2 linked regions of the Homo sapiens genome follow. The protein of the gene in region 2 interacts with the protein of the main gene of each other region in a biochemical or structural test. Each region holds a gene or a part of one and is shown on either strand. Other genes may lie near its edges.

Region 1 (7,038 bases), on a different chromosome or scaffold from region 2:
ACACTCCATATGCCTTGCTGTTCAGAGGCCAGTGCACCATGTTTTTTCATGTTGATTTGAAACTTCCTTCGCCCTTCTTTCAAAAGGCCTCTGAACTGGGAATGAGCCTCTGCGCTGGGAACATTCTTAAAGGTGGCCTGGGGTAGAGAGGGATCAAGTCAGAGGGATAGGTGGCAGGCATTGAGCTTGGCTCTTATTATATTAGCTGCTGAGTCCCTTTTTTTTTTTTTTTTTTTTTTTGAGACAAGAGTCTTGCTCTGTCGCCCAGGCTGGAGTGAAGTGGCACGATCTTGGCTCACTGCAACCTCTGCCTCCCAGGTTCAAGTGATTTTCCTGCCTCAGCGTCCCAAGTAGCTGGGATTACAGGCACCCACCACCACACCCAGCTAATTTTGTATTTTTAGTAGAGACGGGGTTTCCCATGTTGGCCAGGCTGGTCTCAAACTCCTAACCTCAGGTGATCCACCCGCCTTGGCCTCCCAAAGTGCTGGGATTACCGGCATGAGCCATCGCAGCTGGTTGAGTCCCTTCTTGCAAGAGCTGGGTTGAGCTGCCATCTTCTGTTACCTGCTGCTTGTGCCAGCTTGCTATCTTCTGGGAGCCAGGGCTTTGTGGCCATCAAGAGGAATGGGCTTCTTTCCTCCAGGGAGTTCCCCCCAGCTCATGCTGGCAGTGTGCCACCTCCCAAATCTTTCTCTTGTTTTTCTGTGTTCTTTTCTCTAGTTCCTTTTCTCTGAGTGTTTCTCATTCAGTGTTTCTCTCCTGTATTCTGTCTCCCCTCCTGGTAAGGAGTGCCTTTTCCCGGAGGCCTGTCTCCTCCCTACCAACCAGATCCACTGGGCCTGGGTCTAATTTCTTCCATTTTTCTGAGGCATAAGTATCTCTGCCCAGTGGCACTGGCAAAGCCCTGGGGAAGCCAAGTTGAAGCTGATTTGGTTCCTGTCCGACTGTTTATCCCTGGAGCTTCTGTCTGGCCTGCCTCAGCAGGCCTGTGCTTTAGAGCCTGGGGAGATGACACACACTGGACTGGGTTTTGCCTTTGACTTATAGTCCAGTGGGTCAGTGCCTCCAGCCCATGTCCAGCAGCCCTGCTGGGGATGTTCAGTTGCTGCAAGGTTCATGCTATTAGCAAGCCAGAATGAATCTTTACCAGAGTTTTGTTTTTGTTTTTGTTTTTAAGAGTTGGGGTTTCACTCTGTTGTTTGGGCTGGAGTACAATGGCATCATCATGGCTCACTGTAGCCTCGACCTCCCAGGCTTAAGCAATCCTCCCACCTCAGCCTCCCGAGTAGTTGGGACTACGGGCATATGCCACCACGCCTGGCTGATTTTTGTATTTTTGGTAGAGACAGGGTCCCACCATGTTGCCCAGGCTGGTCTCAAACTCCTGGGCTCAAGCGACCCTCCTGCCTCAGCCTCCCAAAGTCCTGGGATTACAGACACGAGCCACCCACCTGGCCCAGAGTTCTGTTCTTTTTTTTGAGATGGAGTCTCACTCTGTTGCCCAGGCTGGAGTGCAGTGGCGCGATCTTGGCTCACTGCAAGCCCCGCCTCCCGGGTTCATGCCATTCTCCTGCCTCAACCTCCTGAGTAGCTGGGACTACAGGTGCCTGCTGCCACGCCCAGCTGATTTTTTGTATTTTTAGTAGAGATGGGATTTCACCGTGTTAGCCAGAATGGTCTCGATCTCCTGACCTCGTGATCCACATCTGCCCGCCTCGGCCTCCCAGAGTGCTGGGATTACAGGCGTGAGCCACTGCGCCCAGCCCAAAGTTCTTATGAATAATTAATCTTTCAGGAAAAGAAAGCCATGGCCCCATGTCACCCATGGAGAGATAAGGCTCTGCTAGATAGAAAACTTGCTCATGGGTACCTGTCCGTGAGGGGCTTGGCAGGTTCATGGCTTTAACTGTGTGATTTCATGTCGTGTCATTCCTTTGTGGTTTCTGATAAACACAACCTGTGGTAGTCTGTGTTTACCAAAGAGTCTCAAGCCTGGAAGGACCTGCTGCCCTACCCACCAGGCTTCACTGGAGCCAGGGCAGACGTGCACAGGAGTGGTGGGCAGCCTTCCAAGGGGCCCAGTGTGTGTATTTCTCCGACTTGCTTCTCCTTTTGGGTGCTCTGGGTTCAGGAATATGTAGATATGTTTTGTCTCTTCAAATCCATATACCTAGTGGCCAGGTGAGTATTTGACACATGAATGTATAGCAGTCATTGGGAAACTCCACAGCTCATGTTTTCCTCATAGTAGATGTGTGCTCCCATCTCCATGGCTTTGTCCCTCACAACCCCCACCCCATGGTAAGTCAGGCCAGTGTCCTCCCAGCTGCAGAGCTGAGAAGGCTGCACAGTTGCCTACTGAGAACCTGCCTAGTGGGTCAGAGCAAAGTGAGAACGGGCCTGTGCCCACCCACAGTGTTACTGTCAGCCCAAGCTCTTTGGGATGTAGTGGAAAGTCATGGTGGATACGGTGAGGAGAGATGGAACCCAAGGTGCTGGCTACAGAGCTCACTTGTGTTTCGTTTCAGGGCTCTCTTTACCTATGAAGGCAACAGCAATGACATCCGCGTGGCTGGCACAGGGGGTGAGTATGACTCCAAATGGACTCAGGGACACCAGGAGGTAGGAGGGTGACGACGAGGGGTCAGCGCACTCAGCTGTCTTGGTCCACTGAGCCACATGGGGCTTCCAGTGCTCACTGGCCACTTCTGGCAGGCCTTAGGTTTCAGATATGTGTAAGTGAAAACATTCCTCCTTGGTTCTCCTTCCCTCTGGGTGCAGGGGAGTGCTTTCTCTTTGTCTACTTGGGGAGAGCTGAGAGGGAAACAGGCCTCTCCAGCTTGTGGGCAGCCTGCGTTGGGAGCTGCGGTGGGAAGCTCACCAGTCCCAGAACTGGTGCTGGTGGAAAGAAAGTCCACAGACATATCTTCTTCTCCCTTTGTCCTGCCCTGGTCTTGTGCCGAGTGCTTGCAGGGGCCCCATCCTCACTGGGAGAGGCAGTATCACTGCAGATAGTCACGGGGGAGGCTCTGGAGGTCTCTACAGGAAGGACAGGCTCTTGGCCAGCACAGAGCAGAGGTTGTCAGGGTAGGCTTCGTCAGAGTGTGACCTGTGGGCCCCTCAGCTGACACCCGTGACTGCTCCTCCTCCAGAAGTTGCCTGACCCCTCCCTCTGTCCTGAGCTGGACATGGCTTCATTGTTCAATGAACACTCGGAGTGGTTCTCCACGGTTTGATGTCTGTTGTTGGTAGAAAGCCCCTTCCTTTCACAATCTTTCTGGGAGGTGTCCCCTTTCTAGAAGGATTGCCATTGAACAGTAGACATGTGGTGTGGCAGGTGACTGGGAGTTGCAGAGATCAACAACTTGAGAGTTTCCTGTCATCCCCAGTGGCACAGGACAGGGCTCTGCCACAAATGCAACAATTTGCTGTCCCCAGAGTGGGGCTCATGACTGCCTCCACTCATACGGAGCCCTGTAGATGAAATACCTGATCAGCTCTTCCTCCTTATAACCTGGAAAAGTTTGTGAGGGCTAAGCCTCAGTGTCAGGGAGAATTGTTTAGAGCTGCCCACTCCTGTGCTCCCCCTGTCCCCATCACCCTCTCTTCTGGAGTCTGAGGACTGAGCCAGTTACGCCACTGCAGGATGTTCAATCTGGTCTGGCCGTCTGGGTGGCCCTGGAACTTGAGCAGACACAGGTGCAGGCAGTGGTGACTCTACAGGCCCTGCTATTCCGGGCCCTTTTGCAACGTTGTGGCAACAATAAAATTTTGACGTAGCCATCCTCCATTTGGAAGTCTGGTGGCTGGTTTGCCGTGGAAATGACCCTGTTTTTATTTCCAGAATTACCTCTGGGTTTAGAGAAGTGGTTTTTAAACGAGTGTGGGTAAAAAAAATTACCTGAGGTACTTGTCAGAATCGCAGACTTCTAGGTCCCACCCAGCTCTCATCAATCAGTTTAGTGAGGGTGGTGCCCAGGACTCTGATTTTAAACATACCCCTAGAAAGATTCTGATACAGGTAGAGGTGAGAAGCCCTGGTTTAGAAGCAGCTCGGCCTCCCTTCATGGTGGGACCAGGGCCAGCAGGGAATGTCAGGGCCACCCCTGACCTTCACTGTGACTCTGCTGCAGAGGGTGGCCTGGAGGAGATGGTGGAGGAGCTCAACAGCGGGAAGGTGATGTACGCCTTCTGCAGAGTGAAGGACCCCAACTCTGGACTGCCCAAATTTGTCCTCATCAACTGGGTATGTGGAGCCTGTTTCATCTAGGTGTGACCCAGGAAACCCCATTGTCTTCTTTCCTGTTTTGACTTGACTTCAGGAACAAAGTGTTTTACTGGCATGACTTAGTAGATCAATAGAACAGCTCTGAGCTGGTGAATGAGCAGAATAGTTGACAGATTCATTGTGGCCCAAAGAATAACTGTGGCTTTGCTATGCAGAATTCACCTTCCAAGCCTAGAGTTCTTCCTGCAAAATGGATTAAAAGCAGTCACAGGGAGTCCTTGCTCCGTGCTCTTGAGGGTGGTTGTTCTGATGGAGTAGAGAGCCTGAGGGAGTGTTTAGGAGCCTGGGAGTACAGGGACAGGGCCTCCTTGATCCCTTGGTGGGGATCAAGAAAACTCTTGAAGGCTGGGTGGGGTGGCTCACACCTGTCATCCTAGAACTTTGGGAGGCCGAGGTGGGTGGACTGCCTGAGCTCAGGAGTTTGAGACCAGCCTGGGCAACATGGTGAAACCCCATCTCTACTAAAATACAAAAAATTAGCTGGGCATGGCAGCGTGCACCTGTAGTCCCAGCTACTCAGGAGGCTGAGGCAAGAGAATTGCTTGAACCCAGGAGGCAGAAGTTGCAGTGAGCCAAGATTGCGCCACTGTACTCCAGCCTGGGCCACAGAGCAAGACTCCATCTCCAAAAAAAAAAAAAAAAAGAAAATTCATGAAATGCCCCCACAGCGAAAGCCGGTAGCCATCCTGCCCAGGGAGAATCCATGAGCCCCTTGGAGGCATGGGAACTTACCTCACCCATGTGATGCAGTCAGAAGAATAGGTTCTGCTTTGGGGGTTGCAGTTTTCTCTTTTCTGGGACACAGGGTAGATGTTGGGTCCCCAGGGAAGGGAAGTGGCTTTGGGGGAGGCCTGGGTCAACCTGGGCATCCTTGTGTTGCAGACAGGCGAGGGCGTGAACGATGTGCGGAAGGGAGCCTGTGCCAGCCACGTCAGCACCATGGCCAGCTTCCTGAAGGTAAGGCCAGGTGAGGCCCGCTTCACTGGGAACAGGCCTCACAGGCTTGAGGTCTCGCAGGTTCCTGGGTGCGAGCAAGTGGGAATCAGAACTGGAGTTGGGAGTGTGCTCATAGCTAATGCTCTCTGCCTGCCTTTGAGGGCATGACCAGAGGCTGCTTCACTCTCGGTCAGTGAGTGCATGGGAGGTCAGGATGTTGCCAGGGCCACCTACAGGCCTGCCTCAGTGGGGCAGGATAAAGGACTATGCTGGAGCTGGTGCCGTGAGAAGGGTGGGCCCTGGTTCTGTTTTGTTTTATGATCCCTCTAAACAGTTTAGTAATACCGTCAGGATTTGGAGGAAGGGGAGAGTGCCCACCATCTTAGCACGCATGTGCCCTTTTGATGCATTCCTTTCCAGCCCCCTCTACATGGAGTTATGTCAGTCCTATAATAGAACCTTTTTAAATTTTAAAAACTATTTGTAACAAAAGCATTTGTTGGTCACTTGTCAGGTAACTTTTTGCATTTCTCTGGCAAAGGAGACTCAGAATTTTGATTTCTCGTTCTGCCAACATTTCTTCAGCTATACCTCAGTTTCCATCTAGGAGCTGATAAGAGAATTCCCAGCTTATCGATATACAGGTTTGAGTATCCTTTATCTGAAATGCTTAGGACCAGAAATGTTTTGGATTTTTTCAGATTTGGGAATGTTTTCAGTTCAGCATCCAAAATCCGAAATTCTCCAGAATCTGAATTTTTTTTTTTTTTTTTTGAGACTGAGTCTCGCTCCGTTGCCCAGGCTGGAGTGCAGTGGCGTGATCTTGGCTCACTGCAAGCTCCGCCTCCCGGGTTCACACCATTCTTCTGCCTCAGCCTCCCGATTAGCTGGGACTGCAGGCACCCGCCACCACGCCCAGCTAATTTTTTGTATTTTTAGTAGAGACGGGGTTTCACTGTGTTAGCCAGGATGGTCTCGATCTCCTGACCTCGTGATTTGCCCGCCTTGGCCTCCCAAAGTGCTAGGATTACAGGCGTGAACCACCACGCCCAGCCCAGAATCTGAGATTTTTTGAGTGCTGACATAATGCTTAAAGGAAATGTTCATTGGAGCAGTTCAGATTTTGGAATTTTAGGTAAGGGATGCTCAACCTGTATAGCAACAGTGAATGACGTCATGGGTCTGGCTTCTTATGAAGAAATCATTGGCTTACTTTTTGTAGAAAACATGCATGGCATTCTTTTATCAGAGTTTTTTTTAATTGTTTTGTTTTTTGTTTGTTTGTTTGTTTTGAGACAGTCTCACTCTGTCACCCAGGCTGGAACGCAGTGGCACGATCTCGGCTCACTGCAACCTCTGCCTCCCAGGTTCAAGTGATTTTCCTGCCTCAGCCTCCTGAGTAGTTGGGATTACAGGTGCCTGCCACCATGCCCGGCTAAGTTTTCTATTTTTAGTAGAGATGGTGTTTCCCTGTGTTGGCCAGGCTGGTCTGGAATCCCTGAGCTCAAGTGATCTGCCCTCTTCAGCTTCCCAAAGTGCTGGGATTACAGGCGAGAGCCACCGCACCTGGCCCAGAGTTTTTATAAATTGATATATAATAGTTGTACATATTTTTTGCATACATGTCATATTTTGATACCTGTATACAATGTATACGATGAATCAGGGTAATTAGCATGTTCATCACCTCAAACATTTATCTTTTCTTTGTGTTGGGAACATTACAATTTTTCTCTTCTAGCTAATTTGAAATACACAAAATTATTGTTAACTATAATTTCCCTTCTGTACTATTGAATACTAGAATTTAT
Region 2 (6,037 bases):
AAAATCACTTAAAATTTTTTTTTTTTTCTATTTAGTGTACTAAGCAGAAACCACCAGGCAGTGTAGTGCTGACTGAGTTTTTGAGTTTTCTGGGATATGATTTTTAGCTATTTTACTATGTAATATATAAACAAAAAATGCTAAGTACCCACTACTTTAATTCAGTAACTTTGCTTGTATTTGCGTGACATCTATATATCAGTTTCTCATGAAGAAAAACTATCATAAAAATTTTAAGGTAAAATTTAACACGAATATTAGGAAAAAACACACTTTCGCAATTTGGAGTAAGGTGAATGACACATCCTTTCCTTTTCTAGTAATTTCTAAATTTAGAAATTGAGAAATTTTCTAACAGTGTCAATCTCAACTACTTCTTACCTGAAAGGTTTCTTAAGATTTTGTATAAATTAATTTACTTCATGCTATACATTTAGGAGGCAAAAATTCAATGAAAATCATTTCATGACTTCAAGCACAGAATTTCAGGATGTCAAAATCATTTGATATCAAATAAATGCAATGGTTAAAACAACAATAAGAATCCACTGCCATCAAACAAACTTTCCCCGACCTGCCTCCCATTCCAGTACTGACAAAATCAGGACCACAAGGAGATAAATGACCGAAGTGTATATGCTTCAGTTAAATAAAAACATGGGAGACTGTAGCCCACATGTTAAAGAATACATTTAATTTTAACAGGGCAAATAAACTAGTTTTTAAAGGTAGTGGTGGTGTTGGCTTAATTTTGAGTGTTCCTTTTATTTCCACCTGAAAAAAAAAGTGAGCTTTTCCTCTAACTGCTTCCCAACAGTTCAATGACAGCAGAACATCAAATCTATGATGGTGCTGGAGATCTTCTATAGAGACAAGGAGAGATGCAACTTCGTGAGCATGTTTTAGTCTGCAGAAAGAAAGTGGAAAAGAGAAAGAGAGAGAGAGGAGAACAAAAACTAATTTTCCAGGCAGGGGAATACTTATAAAACCTTTTATGTCAAAGTTAGGATTTCACAACATAACACACTAATGCAAAATCCAGTAGCACCTGAAAGATTTAAGTAAATGCTGTCATCATTTAAATGCTTTTAAATATCTGTAAAAGACTGGAGGAAAAAAAGATAAAGTACATTCTCCAGAGAACAAATGTATTTCAAAATAAAAACTGTATTTTTGCTTTTCTTTTTTTTTTTCAATTTTTGTTTTTGTACAAGATTCAATAGTTATCACATATTAACTTATACACAATGGGATCAACCTCCTCCTCCATGTCGCTTCAAGTCCACATGTTCAGGCTATAGTCCCCAACATTATTTTCTGAGAAATATATTACCACAGTTTGATTTAAATATAGATACAGTATATAATACTTGTCTCTGGGAAAAATCAAATTTTAATATGCAAATGTTTATATAATACAGAAATGGAAAAAACTACAGTAGGCACACAACCTAATTATGACTTGTGGATGATGATTTCTACATACTCTCCTACTGTAAATGAATAGTTAAAAGTCTTAAGAAGATTTTATTTATATGTGCACTTGTGTCCACCTTATCCCATATACTGTACATGTCTATTGACAATCTGGGAATTTAAAGGTGCAGCCCTCAAGAGATTGTTAAATCACTAAAAAAGGAAACAATTAGGCTCTATTGGACAAGAAAAACACTCACAAAATTTCCAATTTTAAATTTCATTATCAGTAGGAAAGTATTAAAAATAATTTTCTGTATATACATATGGGTATATGTATATATTGAATCACACATATGTCCCACATTATCAATACAATTCAAATGGAGACATTTTGGTGAGTTTTTTCATTAAATGATCACTATGTCAAAATTTAAAAATATTTTATTACATCATTAAAATAATTCACTTGCCATTTCAACAGCTTACACTGTTTTTTAAATTTTTTTAACTCTTCATACTAAACTCCCTGATCCCTAGTGTTAAATCTCCTATTTAAATTAAAACTTGGTGCTCTTTGTTACTCAGAAACTGATGGATAAAAACACATTTACTTCAAAATTCCATCAATCAAATACATTTTGTTACCTGATTTATCAGAGAAATATCTCAGCTCTGAGCATGTGTATCTAAATTATTCTCCCTATAATATATAGGTGAGGAAAATATCCTAAAATAGATGGAGGTAACGTACATGATGTTACAGCACATATAATACATGATTGTTATAAATTTTTCAGAGACACCTGAAAACTCACTTAAGAAACTAACTTCAGAAACAAACCATTTATTTTTCACTCTAATGTAAATTAATATGTATGTATTTACGTACATACACATACATAAAAAACAAAATTGTCTAGTATTGAGTAGCTGTTTATGAGTGAAAAAATGGTTACAAATTGGTTAATTAGCTTAATTTTGTACTTAACAATTCGATCATTTTGGGGTACAAACAAGAAGTCAGTGCATTTATAGACTCCATAGAGTCAGTTACTCAAGCATACACTTTAAAAAAGAACCCTCCTCAACATCACAGGCATTGTACAGCAAGAATATATGTACTCTGATGCAATTCCTACTTTATAAGCAGACTAGACAGCACTTGGCTTACTTTTAAAATAGCTTCGTAAAAGAAATATATCATATAAAGAAATGCATGTTTGCTAAAAGTCTTTTAAAATTACATCAAAACAACATTAAAACCTGTTCACTGAGAAGAGCCTATTGAATTTAATTCCTGTTTTGAAATACCTAGTTAACAATTCAGAATATTGCCTTGTGAGGTTTGAATCAAGATGTGATTGATGTGTAGAGCCAGATAGAGTACATGACTCCATCTCTATCTGCCACGATCACAATTTAGATAGAGTCCTCTGATCAGCTGTTTGATGTAAATGGACCCCCTTTAAAATAGCTATACACCTTAAAATTATCTATAATAAACAGTTCCCCAATAACCATTATTATTCGTAAATTGAAATGCATTGATCATTCAGAAAAGATTTCTTGCAAAATATATAAATAAATGTAACTGCATATTCTGTAAATATACTTAACATTGCTAGACCAGCCTGTCAATGACGGGCTGCTGTATTTCAGTACTGTGTGTCAAATTTATTAGAAACTTAAAAAGAAAAATTTCTGAGGGACTCAGCTGCCTTCGTTAGTTGGCTTTAAAATGTGTAATAAAATGGGAGACAATATCTTCTCATAAATACATGGAATCAATATGGAAAAGTAAACTATACAACAGACAAGATTAGAGAACACCAGAGTGTACCAGAGTAGTCACCAGAGTGAAATATCTTCCAGCACAAAAAAGGGAAGAACTCTATACACCCAGTTATAGTATATTTCAATTAAAGATACAGCTCTCTCTCACTCCTGGCAAGAATTAATTGGTAATGGCACTGCTTCTCAGCAGTGCAAAAATATCCTGAGAAATTATTCAGATTACAACAAAAGACAGGCTTTCATCACTAAGTTTTTGCACAAAACACAGCTCTAGATATCGTAAATAAATTAATTTAAAAAGCAGATAATCTTCACTGTGTTGAACACAAAAAGGGGATGTGACCTAGACATTGTTAATTCTCCCATTGGCTAATATCAGGAAAAAAGATTGCATTAAGTGTCTATTTATAACTTTCTAGTTAACTATGGCCAATAATATACATGGAGGTAATTTGTAGTTCAAGTTTTTCATCTTTTTTCCCCAACTAGCTACAAGCTGGATTCTAAAATTTACAGTGAAATATACAATTCCAATTTCAAAAGATCCTCCTCCTGGAGGAGTGATATTCAATTTTTTTTTTTTTTTTTTTGTGCAATCTTGATGCAGAGCCTAAACAGTCCTATGAAGAGAGACAGTGTATCTTTTAATTAATTGGCACTGAAATTTCACTTTCCTTAGCTGCATTCTAGTAGCTTGGCCAAGTTATCTCGTAATTCTGTTAGTTCAAATATCTTTCCATCCAGAATTTCTAAGAGTGTCTTCAGGTTATTGCGAAAAGCTTCTTGTTCATTCTGACTTTTCTCCAGACGTTGCTCTAAGTCAGACAGTTGTCCCTCCAGGTCTTTGTTCCGAATTTCTACTTCCTTCAGAAACAAAAGTGTAACATGTATATATGTCAATTCATCACTTAGAAAACAATACAACTCTCTGTTATTACCAATATTGCGGTAATCAATGCAGTTTGACTGTCAGGATGAGCTGCAGAATCTTAATTTAGCACAATTTAAGGAGATTTTAGACTTGGCCATCCCAGAGAGCAATACGATTTTAATGACTGGCTTGGTTATCAATCTATCTAACCACTCAACGAAAATCTACTGACTCATTACTTTGTGCCAGGCAACACTCTAGGTACTTCAAATACCAAGACAGGCTTGAAGACCTATTTATGGATCACTTAGATCTCATTTTTATTGCTGTCCACCTATTTCTCCTAATGCATAATTATTAGCAATCACAGGTGAAAGCAGGCAGAGAAAGAAAAAGAAATTAACTTTTTCTGTTTACTGGCAACTCTAGAGAAAGATTTAGACAAGAAAGTAACTCTCTAAAATGTGATTTTAGGATCCTCTGAATATGTTATTCTTTGCTTTGCCTCAATATCAAATAAATGTATATGTAGAGAGTATCACTCAATTGCTAGAAACTGTAGTGAAGATACATAATAACTGTACATATTAGAGAATTATAAGTTAACAGTTCCAATACATTGCAAACCAAGGGAAAAAAATGACAAAAGGAAATCAAATGTTCATGACAACAAAAAAAACACTAAATGATTTGTTTTTGACAGAATAAACTCTGGCACACTTAAAAATTATTTAGCAGTTATTACTGCTTTTGTTTTTTTGTTGTTGTTTCTTTTCTTTGAGACACAGTCTCACTCTGTCCCCCAGGATGGAGTGCAATGGTGCAATCTTGGCTCACTGCAACCTCCGCCTCCCAGGTTCAAGCCATTCTCCTGCCTCAGCCTCCCAAGTAGCTGGGATTACAGGCACACGCCACCACACCTGGCTAATTTTTATATTTTTAGTAGAGACGGGGTTTCACCATGTTGGCCAGGCCAGTCTTGAACTCTTGACCTCCAGTGATCCACCCGCCTCGGCCTCCAAATGTGCTAGGATTACAGGCGTGAGCCACCCCGCCTGGCCTATTACTGCTTTTAAAATTGTCTCTAAATGTGACAAATATAATAAAGTGAGTCTAAAAAAATAAAATGACATAAATCAAGCTAATGATTTCATTTTGGTTAAAAAAATCAGATTGAGAAAAATGGGAGAAAGCCAACTATTACACTTTAAATAAGCAATTCAGATAAGCAATGAATTGAAAGTTGTTATATATCCGTTCTGGAAAGCTCACTTTTACATTTGAGAGAAACTAAGTGACTGACACAATTTACATTAAGATATATAAACTATATGGGACAACGAAAATATCTTGATGTTAGTTACACAACATGATAGCCTCAGAAAATGAGATGTTTCAAAATGTTAATACATCCTTTAAATGTTAATCTCTAAAGGAATTCTATCAAGTCTAAAGGACAGTGGAAATTTTAAAAAAATTAGATCACTGAAAGACAATCTGGTAAATGTTAAATGAAAAGAACAGAATATAAAGTAGCTCACTGAAACTGGCAAAAATTCGTATGCATGAGGACAAACACTAGGAATTAATGTAGAAATAGGAAATAAAAAATAGTTCTGGTGTTGAAATTACAGACACTTTTTTCCAAAAATTTATTCTTCTCTCAAGTTGGATAAAGAATGAAAAAAAAATTAAGAACTAAATTTTTTTCACAATGTAAAAATTAAACTTTCAAGAAAAATAATTAGGGCAAGGCTCACGCCTTTAATCCCAGAACTCTGGGAGGCTGAATCACCTGAGGTCAGGAGGTCGAGACCAGCCTGGCCAACATGGCGAATCCCTTCGTCTCTACTAAAAATATAAAAATTAGCCAGGCGTGGTGGCAGGCACCTGTAATCTCAGCTACTCGGGAGACTGAGGCAGGAGAATGACTTGAACCGGGAGGCAGAGGTT

The links. Proteins that work in one complex are often made in the same cells at the same time.
Region 1: the proteins of HOMER1 (region 2) and DBNL form a complex in vitro, tested with the Homo sapiens proteins (one study listed by BioGRID).

Annotation. Positions count from the first base shown.
Region 1 is NC_000007.14:44,047,694-44,054,731, forward strand, and holds part of DBNL (drebrin-like protein), read left to right. Parts: intron 1-2,531; coding exon 2,532-2,587; intron 2,588-4,072; exon of another isoform or gene 4,073-4,136; coding exon 4,137-4,249; intron 4,250-5,173; coding exon 5,174-5,248; intron 5,249-7,038. UniProt on the Homo sapiens protein: Adapter protein that binds F-actin and DNM1, and thereby plays a role in receptor-mediated endocytosis.
Region 2 is NC_000005.10:79,372,121-79,378,157, forward strand, and holds the end of HOMER1 (homer protein homolog 1), read right to left. Parts: intron 4,078-6,037; coding exon 3,889-4,077; 3' UTR 516-3,888; downstream 1-515. UniProt on the Homo sapiens protein: Postsynaptic density scaffolding protein. Binds and cross-links cytoplasmic regions of GRM1, GRM5, ITPR1, DNM3, RYR1, RYR2, SHANK1 and SHANK3.